4 linked regions of the Homo sapiens genome follow. The protein of the gene in region 4 interacts with the protein of the main gene of each other region in a pairwise test. Each region holds a gene or a part of one and is shown on either strand. Other genes may lie near its edges.

Region 1 (3,500 bases), on a different chromosome or scaffold from region 4:
ACTAGCTCCTGGATTACTTCTAATGTTAATGAAGATTAGACAATAGGCTTAAAAAGTAGGACTTTTCTGGGTGGGTTCTGACCAATTCTTTCCCCCTTAATATTCCAGAATGATTAAATGCATTCATTGTTATTAAAGCAGTGGTCTATTGAGTCACATACGGTACCTTGGGGCCATGTGGGAAGTCAAACAGGTAAGTCATAATTTTCTGGAAAAAAAAATTTAACATAAGGTCCATATACTACTTTTGCAAAAGGTATATAACCTAAAGAAATTACAAGCTTTTCACAAAACATGTCTTTTTCAACATAGGACTCACCACATTCTTGTTTCCTCTAAATTTTATGAAATCATGGCAGTGGAAGCCAGAAATTAATGCTTTACCATATACCAAAAAGAAAAAAAGGCTTCTGACATTCTCAGGGAGGATACATACTTCCTCTGGAAGATGTTTTTGAACACACATTTGGAGGAAAGGAGCATATGAGGTAGGGGTATAGAGAAAACTAATGACTCACACAGAAATAACCTATCACCTTGGCTTCGCTACTGCCATCCCTAGACCAACTAAGTCAACAAACCAACGGTTTATGTAAGACTGTTTACTACAAATCACCAGGTGTCTAAATCAAGTTTACATGTACAGCGAATTGGGGGAAGTGGAACTTCTTGCCAGTACTATAAATTTTTAAGTGTCTCAGCAAAAGTAAGATGAAGTTAAGGAGTTAGATCAGTTTTTCCACATGCTTTAATCATGGGAAAAAACTGTTTTTAAGAGGTAGTAAATTTTGGGCTGGGCACAGTGACTCACGCCTGTAATCCCAGCACTTTGGGAGGCCAAGGTGGGTGGATCACGAGGTCAGGAGTTCAAGACCAGCCTGTCCAAGATGTTAAAACCTCGTCTCTACTAAAAATACAAAAAAATTAGCCAGGCGCAGTGGCAGGTGCCTGTAATCCCAGCTACTTGGGAGGCTGAGGCAGGAGAATTGCTTGAACCCAGGCGGCAGAGGTTGCAGTGAGCCGAGATCGCACCACTGCACCCCAGCCTGGGCGACAGAGTGAGACTCTGTCTCAAAAAAAAAAAAAAAAAAAAAAAAAAGATATATAAATTTTGACAGCTAAGAGCCAAAACATCTGTGCAGCATCTATTGCTGCAGGTCTTCCAACAGCAGGGAAAGTCATACATACACATCAATAAGGGGTGTGACTGCTCAAGTTTATAGAAATGATGCTCCAAAGAGACACAAAAGCCATTTTAATCTTTACAAATGTTTTAAATAACCCCAAGATTAAAATTTTCAAGTAGCCAATTATAATCAGTGAAAATGGTTAAAATAAATTTCTAGAAAAATTTGAGAACCACTGTTATCCTGTATATTTTTGCCTTTTTACTCTTTGAAAATGAGAAGGCAAGAAACTATTTTCACTTAATAAACTTCTATCTTCCTCATTGTCTTCACAGTTCTTTAGGCCAAAATAATTCCACTGCATAAATAAATATACACATGAAGCACTTACATCTGTATATTTATAGTCACTGTTGGTAGCAAGAAATACTTTCCCTACTTCCTTCATCCGGCTCAGAAGCAAAGGCAGTTTTCCCTGAAATGTAATTGGATAATGAGTGAAACACGAAAACATTTTTATCTTTACACTTTGGAGTTGTCAAATACTGGATTTCTGTCCACAACAGGAATGGGGGAACCTTTTAAGGGTTAGCTGATTTCAGAATTTTGCACTTAAAAGCCCACATTATCACTATAAATGAATAAAGTATTAACATATGTAGTATACACAGTGTATGTAATAGATTTACATGTAAAATTATACACATATTTATAGGGGTTATATGGCTGTTAACAACATATCTCTACCTTCCTCATGATGTCTGCCTCAGGAAAGAGTTTAAATTACCTTGAGATTTCTTGAAGTATGTGAGGTGTGTTAAAGGTCAGCAGAAGCTGATTTAAACATGCTCTACATAGAGATTATTAGATATGGCTTTCAGTGTGTACACTATGGTTTTATAAAACACCTTGCAGAATGAAATGACATGTGCAGATGCTACCTAGAAATACCCACACCCACGTGCGCTTAAATGAGGAAATTCTAACCCCTCATGTGCCTGGAAAGAAAAATATCTTTTCCTTCTCGCATAGCAAATAGATTCCTTCACTCAAATTCTCCCGGACCCTCCCCATTCAGTGTTCTTTCTTGAAATAAGGGAGGTGGGTGAAAATAGGAAGCACAAAAACTGAAAACAAGAAATCTTTACCACAGTACTTTGAGAAAATACTGTATTCTGCTACTTTTACTCTGTAGGAAAAGAAAGAAGTATGTCATCTTGGGGCACTATGTGTGTTTAATTTTTATTCTAAAACAGTTCTAGACTTATAGAAAAGCTGTGAAAATAAAGAGTTCCCATATATTCTTCCTCCAGTTTCCCTTAATATTAACATCTTATATAACCACAGTATAATTATGAAAAGTATGAAATTAACATTGGTACAATACTATTAACCACAGATTTTTTAAAAAATTTTATCAGGTTTGCCACTAATGCCTTTTAAGGTACTTTAAAGCTTTCCTCATTACTCTCTGTTGACAGGTTAAAGGCATTTTAAATAACAGTAACATATATGCACATTTTTGAGATGATCTAGTGCAGTAGTTATGATTTGGGTGTGACTTAGCTTTACTACTTACTAACTGTGTGACCTCTGGCAAGTTATTTAATCCCTCTATTTCTCAGGTTTTTTATCTATAAAACAGAGGCAACAATAATACCTAACTCAAGGTCATACAGAAGATTAAATGGCATAATGCATGTAATCACTTAGCATGGTGATGATGTGCATACAGTAAACCTCTAACTGCTATTATAATTGAAGCTAAGCGAACAAATGCAATACTGAGTCTTCTTGCCTATCAAGAAACAGGAAAAATGAAATACTGAGTCTTCTTGCCTATCAAGAAACAGGAAAAACTCTACTAAGACCTATGCTCTAGCTGAATATTCTTGGTGATTATACCCGACACATACTATGCCAAGACAAATCTCTTCTTTTGTCCATTTCATTATAAATCAGCTTGTTATTAATTTCCCTAATAGGTAAAATGAGCTATTATGCAGATCTATTTTCCCCTATATTACTTACATCTTTGACTACATACTTCTCAAGATTTTCAACTGTCTTTTCCTTAAGGGAGCCCTGGAGGAAGACAAAAAAAAGAATTAAGAAAAGAACAAAATCAGTTTTTAACATGTAGTTTATAAGAAAAATGGTTTTTACTAATCAACCCAAATCCTTTCTTTTTTTGAGACAAGGTCACCCTGTTGCCCATGCTAGAGTGCAGTGGTACAATCTCAGCTCACTGCAGCCTCGACCTCCCCAGGCTCAGGTGATCCTCCCACTTCAGCCTCCCAAGTAGCTAGGACCACAGGTCCACACCAACATGCCTGGCTAATTTTCTGTATTTCTTGTACAGACAGGGTTTTG
Region 2 (3,500 bases), on a different chromosome or scaffold from region 4:
AGCAGAAGTTAGCTGGGACTCCCACTCCTCGGCAGAGCTGCCATCTTGAATCCTGCTGGTCACTCGCTCCCTTGGTCTTAAAGCAATGGAAGGGTGGCTCACATGGATGCCTCCTGGGTATTAGGAAATAACCATCACTGATAAATACAGACTGATAGTTTACCACATGCATGGTAAGTGTGGTAGTTTAAAATATTCTCGGCCAGGCGCGGTGGCTCACGCCTGTAATCCCAGCACTTTGGGAGTCCGAGGCGGGCGGATCACGAGGTCAGGAGATCAAGACCATCCTGGCTAACATGGTGAAATCCCATCTCTACTAAAAAATACAAAAAATTAGCCAGGCCTGGTGGCGGGCGCCTGCAGTCCCAGCTACTCGGCAGGCTGAGGCAGGAGAATGATGTGAACCCGGGAGGTGGAGCTTGTAGTAAGCCGAGATCGTGCCACTGCACTCCAGCCTAGGTGACAGAGCAAGACTCCGTCTCAAAAAAAAAAAAAAAAAAATTCTTACTTGTGTCTCCACAAACTATTTCAGCGTCCTAGAAGTTCTACCATGCCAACTGACATTTTCTGACCTGCCTCCAGCCACCAAGGCAGTGCCCAAATTCTTTGACTATGTATTCCACTTTTCACTTAAAAATATTGTCACTATATAAATCCCTTATTTTCTCACCTGAAACCATATATCAGACTGGGAAAATATCTGAATGCTCTACTCTGGGCCATTAATAAATACACAAATATGTAATACTTATCTTTTATTATCACTTATCAATAAACTGAGTAAAATAAATGTTTTCAGGGGAATTTCTCTCAGCCAGCCTTACCAGGGGATGATGGGAGAGGGGTGGGGAGGTGAACCGGCAACAACTATGGCCGGCGGCAGAGCAAGCTCTTTCCAAATGACTGCTGACCTAGGGCAGGGGAAAGGGAGTGGAGTGTGACAGAGGGTCTCACCCATGGGCTGAGAGAAAACAGGAGAGGAACCGACGTTCCTGAACTCCCCTTTTCTTCAGTCCCAACCTTGCTGCATCTGGCCCAAGGTTAGCTGAGTGCCATGCTACTTCCTTCACTGCCAACCCAGGCATCCTGGCCAGGCCCACCTGCTGTGGCCACCAACCACCTCTTTCACTTGGGGGATAGAAGAAGGGGAGGGAGGCAGCCTTCCTTCCTGTGGACCTACTTTCTTTCCCCGGGGTAAGAGGAAATGGGCTAGCAGTCCTTAAATCTTTATTTGGTAGTGCTGGAAAGTACTGTTTACCTGGCAGAAAGCTGGAATAGGGGAAGGCAAGGCCAGGAAGGCAAGAAGACAGAATGGCCCAGGTGTGGCTGGCGAAGGCCCACCATCCCTACCCAAATCACATCAGGGTTGGTGGGGGGGGGCACTTCTCCCTAGTGCTGCTGTGACCTGTCACAGACCCTCTCAACTTGTCCCACCCAGAAAGTACCTGGTCCTGTCTCTCATTCGCTTGTTCCCCACCTGAGCTCAGGTGGTGAGCATGGTGAGTGCTCAGGCTTGCATGGGAGGTTTACATTCATAGGTTTTAAGGAGTAGGGCCTCCAACTATAAAAACATAATATTAAACAGCCACTACAACTGAGGCATGTGTTTGAAAAAAGCTGGCTACAAAACTGTAGAGAGGATCAGATGTGGCCAGGCACGGTGGCTCACGCCTGTAATCCCAGCACTTTGGGAGGCTGGGGGGGGGGGACAATGGATCACAAGGTCAGGAGTTCAATACCAGCCTGGCCAAGATGGTGAAAACCCGTCTTTACTAAAACAAACAAACAAAATATATATATAATTATATTTTATATTATATATAAAATTAGCCAGGCGTGGTGGCTGACGCCTGTAATCCCAGCTACTTGGGAGGTTGAGGCAGAGAACTGCTTGAACCTGGGAGGCGGAGGTTGCAGTGAGCCGAGATCGCGCCTCTGCATTCCAGCCTGGGTGACAGGGTGAGACTCTATCTCAAAAAAAAAAAAAAAAAAAAAAAAGAGAGAGAGAGAGAGGATCAGATAATAACTGTCTAAAACAAGAGACCAAATCCTATGGTTGGAAAAAAAGAGGCCGGGCGTGGTGGCTCATGGCCTGTAATCCCAGCACTTTGGGAGGCTGAGGCGGGTGGATCACCTGAGGTCAGGAGTTCGAGACCAGCCTGGCCAACATGGTGAAATCCTGTCTCTACTAAAAATACAAAAATTAGCCAGGCGTGGTAGCATGTGCCTGTAATCCCAGCTACTTGGGAGGCTGAGTCAGGAGAATCACTTGAACCTGGAAGGCAGAGGTTGCAGTGAGCTGAGATCATGCCAGTGCACTCCAGCCTGGGCAACAGAGGGAGACTCCCATCTCAAAAAAAAAAAAAAAAAAAGAAAAAAAATAGACTGGCAAAAAATATGTAAAAATTCTAGCCTATGGGTGGTGGGGCTGTAGGTGGCTTTTCCCCCAATTTTATTTGACATTTTAATGTGAAAGGGATATAATTAAGTTGAAATTTTCTTTTTAAAGAAGGACGAACAAATTTGATAACTATTAACAGTGTACTGTGATCCCTTCCAGTCCCACCTTGGTGTACCTAAAAGCATACATATGACACATTTATTTGGAGATATGTAACCATACTACAAATATTGCTTGGCAACTTGCTTCTTTCATTTAACATCTCATTTATATTTTTCCACAGGAATATATACAGTCTACCTCATACTTTTTGACGACTTTATAATTAGTGTTCCACTGTGTGTACAAAACAAATCTCCTTACCCCAATATCGATAGACTTTGTTTCAAAAAATGTTCAGCCTCATGAGTATCTTACAGTCTTTCTGTGGGGGTAGATTTTCATAAGTGGAATTTCTGAGTCAAAGGACATGCGCAATTTGGTCAAACTGCTCTCAATAAGTTTGTGCCAATATACAAGTGTGCCTATGTCTTCCTTTACCAAAATTGAATATCATCAACCCTTTTAATTTTGCCAGTTGGATAGATTAAAAAATTATTTTATTAACAATGTTTTTTTCTTTTTCATGTCTTTTGGCTATTTGTATTTTTTGTGAATGAATTGCTCATATTCTTTATCCACTTTTTCTTTGGAAATTATATATATTGATATGAGGGTTCTATATACTGTATGTGTTATACATATTGCAAACATTTTCTTCTATCTATCTTTAAAAAAGCTTTTTTTTTCTTTTTGAGACAAGGTCTCACCCTGTTGCCCAGGCTGCAGTGCGGTGGCATGATCTTGCTCACTGCAAACTCTGCCCCACCTGGGCTCAAGCGATCCTCCCACCTCAGCCTCCTGAGTAACTGGGACTACAGGACGACAGCCACGTACCACCACGCCTGGCTAATTTTGTATTTTTTGTACAGACCAGGTCTCACTGTGTTGTTCAGGCTGGTCTTGAACTCCTGGCTCAAGTGATCTGCCTACCTTGGCATCCCAAAGTGTGGGATTACAGGTGTGAGCTATCGCACCCGGCCTAAAATTTTCATGTAGT
Region 3 (3,483 bases), on a different chromosome or scaffold from region 4:
GTAAAAAAAAAAAAATGATAACATGATCACTACCCATGTATCATTACCCAGGCTTGACAGTGAACATCTTTCTGCTGTTCCTGTACCCACTCTCCAATTTTTTGGTAGTACTTAATTTTGAATTATAAAAATGCCACATGCCAGCCGGGTGCGATGGCTCACACCTGTAATCCCAGTACTTTGGGAGGCCGAAGCAGGCAGATCACGAGGTCAGGAGATCGAGACCATCCTGGCTAACACAGTGAAACTCCGTCTCTACTAAAAATACAAAAAATTAGCTGAGTGTGGTAGCGGGCGCCTGTGGTCCCAGCTTCTCGGGAGGCTGAGGCAAGGAAGTGGCTTGAACCCGGGAGGCGGAGCTTGCAGACAGCAGAGATCGTGCCACTGCACTCCAGCCTGGGCGACAGAGCAAGACTCTGTCTCAAAAAAAAAAAAAAAAAAAAAAAAAAAGTGAGTGTATATGTAACTTGTCCACAAAAAGAATTATACATTTTGTACTAGAATATATTTTTATTGCATTTTGAGTGTTTTCTAAGTTAACACAAAGAGAACTACGTCGTTTTTAAGAAGTGGCTGGATAGCATTCCATCCTGTCAGGATATGGAAATGGTTTTCACAGTGATTAGTAGGCAGGTAGGTAGGTAGAGATTAGATAGACACACAGAAACATGGTCATGGAGCTATCCTCACGCCTGACTTTCCTGTGACAGTCAAAGTCCTATCACTGGTTGTGATGGGTGTGTCTTTGCCTGAACTAGGTCATGCTAAACTGACCTCTCCAGTGGCTGTACCAGTTTGTTCTTGGTAGTGTCTGAGAGATTCCATTCCGTCGCTTTGCCATCATTTGGATTGCTAGACTTTTTAATATTTGCCAGGTTGGTGTATCTCAAATAGGATCTCATTACTAGCATTAGCAGTTCCCTGACCAGGTCTCTGTTCACATGTTTCCAGACTGAGGTGGCCTTTCTGTAAATTGCCTAATTGTTTCTCTATAACCAAACACCTTTCTGATGTTTTTAAGTTATTTTTGATAACTCTGTCATTAATTCTGTGAGTTCTATCAGCAGTTTCACTGCATGCATCAGGTATGTGATACCATATGCCGGTAATGGTCATTTTGTCTTCTCCTCTTGTATCTTTTTTGTTTCCCCTCACAAGACAGAGTTTCACTCTTGTCACCCAGGCTGGAGTACAGTGGCGTGATCTCGGCTCACTGCAACCTCTGCCTCCTGGGTTCAAGCGATTCTCCTGCCTCAGCCTCCCGAGTAGCTGGGATTACAGGTGCCTGCCACCACGCCCAGCTAATTTTTGTATTTTTAGTAGAAACGAGGTTTCACCATGTTGGCCAGGCTGATTTTGAACTCCTGACCTCAGGTGATCCCCCCCAGCTTGGCCTCCCAAAGTGCTGGGATTACAGGCATGAGCCACTGTGCCTGGCCCTCCTCTCATGTCTTATTCAGAGCCTGATGGTGCGGTGCATGCTTCTAGAACAGTAGCGATGGGTGTGCCTCATGACCGTAATGGAGCTGCTGCTCGCTCCACCGTTAAACACCATGCTGACTTTGGCTGAGCTGTATTTTTTTCTTATCATGTTATGGAAATGTTTGTTTGTTTTTGTTTGGTTTGGTTTTTTTTTTTTTTTTTTTTTTTGAGACGGAGTCTCACTCTGTCACTCAGGCGATCTTGGCTCACTGCAACCTCTGCCTCCCGGGTATAAGCAATTCTCCTTGCCTTAGTCTCCCAAGTAGCTGGGATTACAGGCACCAGCCACCACGCCTGGCTAATTTTTGTATTTTTAGTAGAGATGGGGTTTAATCATGTTGGCTAGGCTGGTCTCGAACTACTGATGTCAAGTGATCCGCCCGCCTCAGCCTCCCAAACTGCTTTGATTACAGGTGTGAGCCAATGCGCCTGGCACCACCTCAGTCTTTACTTACTTCTGTCCCGTTGCCTGTGGTTCTGGAAGTCTGACTGGAAAGGGGTCTGTTCCTGACACCCCACCTCCTCTTCCCTCTCTCAGGTGCTGGCTCCTTTGGTTGTATTGGGGTAGGGAGGAAAGAGAAGGGAAAGGGTAGCTCACGCCTGTAATCCCAGCACTTTGAGAGGCCGAGGCAGGCAGATCACTTGAGGTCAGGAATTCGAGACCAGCCTGGCCAACATGACGAAATCCTGTCTCTACTAAAAATGCAAAAAAAAGTATCCAGGCGTGGTGGTGCGTGCCTGTAATCCCAGCTACTCAGGAGGCTGAAGCAGGAGAATCACTTGAACCCGGGAGGCAGAGGTTGCAGTGAGCAGAGCCTGTGCTACTGCACTCCAGCTGGGTGACAGAGTAAGGCTCTGTCTCAAAAAAAAAAAAAAAAGTTTCCCAGAGCCCATCTAGTAGGGCCACACGGTGATGGCATCTGTCTCTTGGCTCCTGTGTGGTCACCGGCCATGCCCTTCCCTGACCTCAGCTGCTAGCCCTCAGCACATGTGACTGTGACGTCGTGTGGCAGCTGCTGAGTCCTGAGATGTTTTTAATGGCTGTTTGATTCCCAGGTTCTTCACCTACCAACGAGGGGAGAGAGCTGTGGTTCTCCATCATTGGGGGAGTGGAAGGGAGCTCCCAGCGCAGCCGTGGCAGCCACCTTCCAGGAGCAGGGGCTGGAATGTCCTGTGGCCGCATCTCTCATGGACGCGGCTGAAACGTGTTTTCACAGGTGCTGTTTTCTGTTTTCCGTGTTCGTAACAGAAGGGAGGGGAAAGCGCAGCTACTGACAAGTAGAACACTGCTACTTTTTTTAAGGCAGTTTCTTGTTTTTTTAGACGGAATTAGTCCTTGGCTTCCCTCCCAGTCCCAGCCCTGCTTCCGGCTGCGAATGTCCCTGAGTCAACACCAATAGAGATTGCTTTGTGTATTTTGTAGGGTTCTCTGTTTTGAAGACAGAATTATGTTACAAATGTTTTTGTTGTAAATAAATAAAACACTTCCTTGTCCTTGCAAGATCCAGTATAAGTGAATTGCGTGGACTCAGCTAAGCTTCCAGAGTCCCCAGGTGGGCAGGGGGAGGCCATTTGCCAGTGGGGCTGGGGCTCAAGCTCTGGAGCCAGCGGTTCTGATTCACCTGATAACGAAACGCTGCACACCAGGCTTGGGGTTCCCTAAGCCCGCTCCCAGTGTGGGGAGCTGATGCCAGCAGCTTAATGGAAAGTTGAAGCTACTTCACCCTCCCATACCCCGACACCCCGGGATCCTTGTCCCACACAGCCCTGAGGCCACCTCACCCTCCTGCGCCCCGACACCCCGGGCTCCCTGCCCCACACGACCCTGAGGCCACCTCACCCTCCTGTACCCCGACACCCCGGGCCCCCTGCCCCACACAGCCCTGAGACCACCTCACCCTCCTGCACCCCGACACCCCGGGCTCCCTGCCCCACACAGGCCTGAGGCCATCTCACCCTCCTGCACCCCAACACCCCGGGCTCCCTGCCCCACACAGGCCT
Region 4 (3,500 bases):
AAGGTCTCTGTTATTAGCCCTTTGAATAAACTTTCTACCCCTATCTCTTTCTCTACTTCTTCTTTAAGACCAATAACTTAGATTTGCCCTTTCCAGCCTATTTCCTAGATCCTATAGGTGTGCTTCATGTTTTTTATTCTTTTTTTGTCTCCTCTGTGTATTTTCAAATAACCTGTCTTCAATCTCACTAATTCTTCTGCTTGATCAATTCTGCCATTAAAGGACTCTGATGCCTTCTTCAGTACGCTTTTTGCATTTTTCAGCTCCAGAATTTCTGCTTGATTCTTTTTAATTATTTCAATCTCATTGTTAAATTTATTTGATGGAATTCTGAATTTCTTCTCTGTGTTATCTTGAATTTCTTGGGTTTCCTTAGCAGAGGTTTTTTTTTTTTTTTTTTTCAGGAAACACAAATTTTCATGAAATTTGAAAATTCAAACCACAGCATGACATTAAGAAAACACAAATATTACTTATCCAGAAGAAAAAGTGTTTTGAACTTTTTCATAAAATATTTAGGAACAAGGAAGTTGAAGCTTGGAGCGGTAGAGTGAGAAATAAGGAATATGTGGGAGAGAAAGTAAAGTGAAAAAAATTAGATCAGATTTTTTTTTTGTTGTTGTTAGCACTAAACTGGTTTGCTTCAGGCCCCTAGCCAGGGTTGATTTTGAAACCTATAGCAGAGCTATTTTGAATACTCTGTCTGAAAGGTCACATATCTCTGTTTCTTCAGGATTGGTCCCTTGTGCCTTATTTGGTTTATTTGGTAAGTTCATATTTTCCTGGATGATCTTGATACTTGTGGATGTTCATCTGTGTCTGGGCACTGAAAAGTTAGGTATTTACTGTAGTCTGCAATCTTGGCATGTTTGTACCCATCCTTCTTAGGAAGGCTTTACATGTATTTGAAAAGTCTTGGGTATTATGATCTAAGCTATATCTGCTTTAAGGGGCACCCTAAGTCCATTATAAAACTAATGATGAATGTGCAACAGATAGTGTTATAAAATTTAAAAAGAAAATTGTTACTAAAATTTTTATTGACAAAAACAGATCTATAACTGTTTGAACTCCCCAAAAGGTAAGAATTGTACTTTGGCTCTGATTTATTAATATGATATATCCTTTACAAAAAAATTTACCTAGTATTATATGTTCAATAGTTTTTATTTTCATTTATAAATATAATTTTAGTCATTTTTTTGTCCATCATAAATCCCTTTTTCCTTCATACTGATTTTTTTCTGCAAAGACCTTTAAAAAACTATTTACCTAGGGTTAGTTGCAGCTGAGGCTGCATCATCACAAATCCAGAGTTGCTCTTCTTGTATGTCAGAAAAAGATCAGTGAGGGAGATGAGTGTGTACAATGCAGTTCTAAAGTCACAGGTGGACCTATAAGCCACCATCATCGCTTTGGGAGACATAGGCAACAGAAATCCTAAGTGCTTCATGTAAACTAAGTCATTTAATCCCCAAAACTACCTTATGAAGAAAGTACTGTTTCCATTTTTCAAATGGGGAAAATGAGAGTTAGAGACATTAAGTCTTGCCCAGGTCTTTTGGACTCTCACAAATATTCCTCCATAATCCCCCCCTCCAAAAAACCCCTTTATAGTTTCCTGGATCTTCTCTTTAAGCAACACATTTCAGGGCCATGTCTCTTGCTGTAGGCTGCCAGCAAATGATAGCAGCAGTAGCACCAGCAGCAGCAGACTTATCAGATTGGTGTGCTCGTTGCACTCAGCATGCTAGTAGTACCAGGCCCAGTTGGTATTTGTTGATTGATGATCATAGTATCATCAGGAATGGAATAGCTTTCTGATCAGTATTATTGAAATGAGGCCAAGGTACAATTTTGCTTGGTAACATACGCTTAAACTTACTCTTGAACTGAGAGTTTGGATTTTTTAAAGTATATCTGTATGGAAAAGATTGTTAATTTCATATGATCCACTGTAAAGCTGGACCTTCCTTTAAACAGTAGCAGAGAGAGGTGGTGGTGTGATTTATTTCTCCAAAGACTTGTTTAATCTTCAAATATAATTTCACTTGCAATTCCAATATTGGTCAATATTTCCATAAAATCACCTATTTTTTGTTATAAAACTTATATGAATTTTACATTCCACTCAATAACATATATTTATATACACATATATGCATGTTGCAGTGTAAAAATTGTTTACGTTACTTACCATCGAGTAAGACTGGTGCTCTAGGAAAGTTCTCTCTGTATAGACAGAGACCTTAAGACTTTAAGATACTAAGGCTTCTGGGTATAATAATACCACATTGTCCAGTTCAAGTCACTTCAAGACTTCTGGTATAATAATACACATTTTCCTTTAAGACTTTAAGATTTCTGGAACAAAGTGTGATTATGTGTGAGGGATCAACTCTTTTATTATGTATAACTTATATTTAAAATGTTCAAAAGAGGAAAAATGATTTGGCTTCTTTAAGAAAGTCTCTTTTTGATGCAGTGTAATCTTTAAATGTTCCTCATAAAGTACTTTTGATAGAAGTTGGAATCTTCAGGGAAGAAGGAGCTAATGATTGTCTGTGTAATCATTAGGTTGTGGCATTCTCATCAGAGCATCTGTGACAGACAACTCAAGGTGTATCTATGTGCTACTAAAGTGTTAGTTTCTCTCTCTTGAGTTGGCCCTGGAAGGCTAGTGATATGGAAATATCTGAGTCATAGGAAATGTAGTTTCCAGTTTTGGCTCAGTTATTAACCAGCTCTGTGACCTTATGCTAGTCATTTATATTATCTGGAGTTCAGTTTCTTTATCCATAAAGTGAAGAGTTAAAACAAAATGATATATAGCTTTAATAGCATTTGAGGAAGGAAACCAAGTTCCTCCTTTTTTCTAGATTTGGCTCAACAAAGCTGAAAAGTAAATTTTCTTTAAATTTTAAGGGTGGCTTTGGTCTGGATGGTGTGTGTATGTGCATGTGTGTCAGGCAGGTAGTTGAAAGGCCAACCTCACTGTGATGTTTTATCCCAAGTCCAGATGTACCACTGTTATATCTCCAGGTACATCTTTTAACTCTAGGAAGTAAACACAGTTTTTACTGTAAAGGTAAACCAGAAAGTTAAGTTTAAATCAAGTTTGAATATAATTTGTACTTGGAGTAATAAACCTTTTCCCACAGAGGAAACAGCACTAGCTTGGGAGTTCGTTTCCAAAAGCTCTACTGAACAAGCACAGGTTTCAGCTCACTTTTGTACCTGTTTCTCTGTCCCTTGGTGGGCTCCCTCTACCAGCTTCTTAGGCTTCTCAGTCACTTGTCTGCTTGACTTGAGACTCAGCACATGTCTTACGAGTAAAGACAACGCAATGAATGTTGGTTTCACTTCAATGGGCTTCCTGTCTTTCTGGATCTTGGATCCTCAGATCCTGGCTGCCTTAAAAGCTCTCCAAATCTTTGATATCCTACTTTTCTAGTTGTTCTTAGAAGTAGCATTGGTTTGCTGTGAGCTACTTTGTCATA

Evidence for each region. The genes of interacting proteins can lie anywhere in the genome.
Region 1: the proteins of NME7 (region 4) and NT5C2 interact in binary tests that used the Homo sapiens proteins (3 or more experiments, as listed by UniProt).
Region 2: the proteins of NME7 (region 4) and NFKBIL1 interact in binary tests that used the Homo sapiens proteins (3 or more experiments, as listed by UniProt).
Region 3: the proteins of NME7 (region 4) and FKBP6 interact in binary tests that used the Homo sapiens proteins (3 or more experiments, as listed by UniProt).

What each region holds. Positions count from the first base shown.
Region 1 is NC_000010.11:103,095,773-103,099,272, forward strand, and holds part of NT5C2 (cytosolic purine 5'-nucleotidase), read right to left. Parts: intron 3,213-3,500; coding exon 3,159-3,212; intron 2,317-3,158; exon of another isoform or gene 2,276-2,316; intron 1,603-2,275; coding exon 1,519-1,602; intron 209-1,518; coding exon 167-208; intron 1-166. UniProt on the Homo sapiens protein: Broad specificity cytosolic 5'-nucleotidase that catalyzes the dephosphorylation of 6-hydroxypurine nucleoside 5'-monophosphates.
Region 2 is NC_000006.12:31,554,108-31,557,607, reverse strand, and holds part of NFKBIL1 (NF-kappa-B inhibitor-like protein 1), read right to left. Parts: intron 1-3,500. UniProt on the Homo sapiens protein: Involved in the regulation of innate immune response. Acts as negative regulator of Toll-like receptor and interferon-regulatory factor (IRF) signaling pathways.
Region 3 is NC_000007.14:73,355,643-73,359,125, forward strand, and holds the end of FKBP6 (inactive peptidyl-prolyl cis-trans isomerase FKBP6), read left to right. Parts: intron 1-2,538; 3' UTR 2,539-2,983; downstream 2,984-3,483. UniProt on the Homo sapiens protein: Has an essential role in spermatogenesis. It is required to repress transposable elements and prevent their mobilization, which is essential for the germline integrity.
Region 4 is NC_000001.11:169,326,298-169,329,797, reverse strand, and holds part of NME7 (nucleoside diphosphate kinase homolog 7), read left to right. Parts: intron 1-3,500. UniProt on the Homo sapiens protein: Possesses an intrinsic kinase activity. Displays 3'-5' exonuclease activity with a preference for single-stranded DNA. Does not seem to have nucleoside diphosphate kinase activity.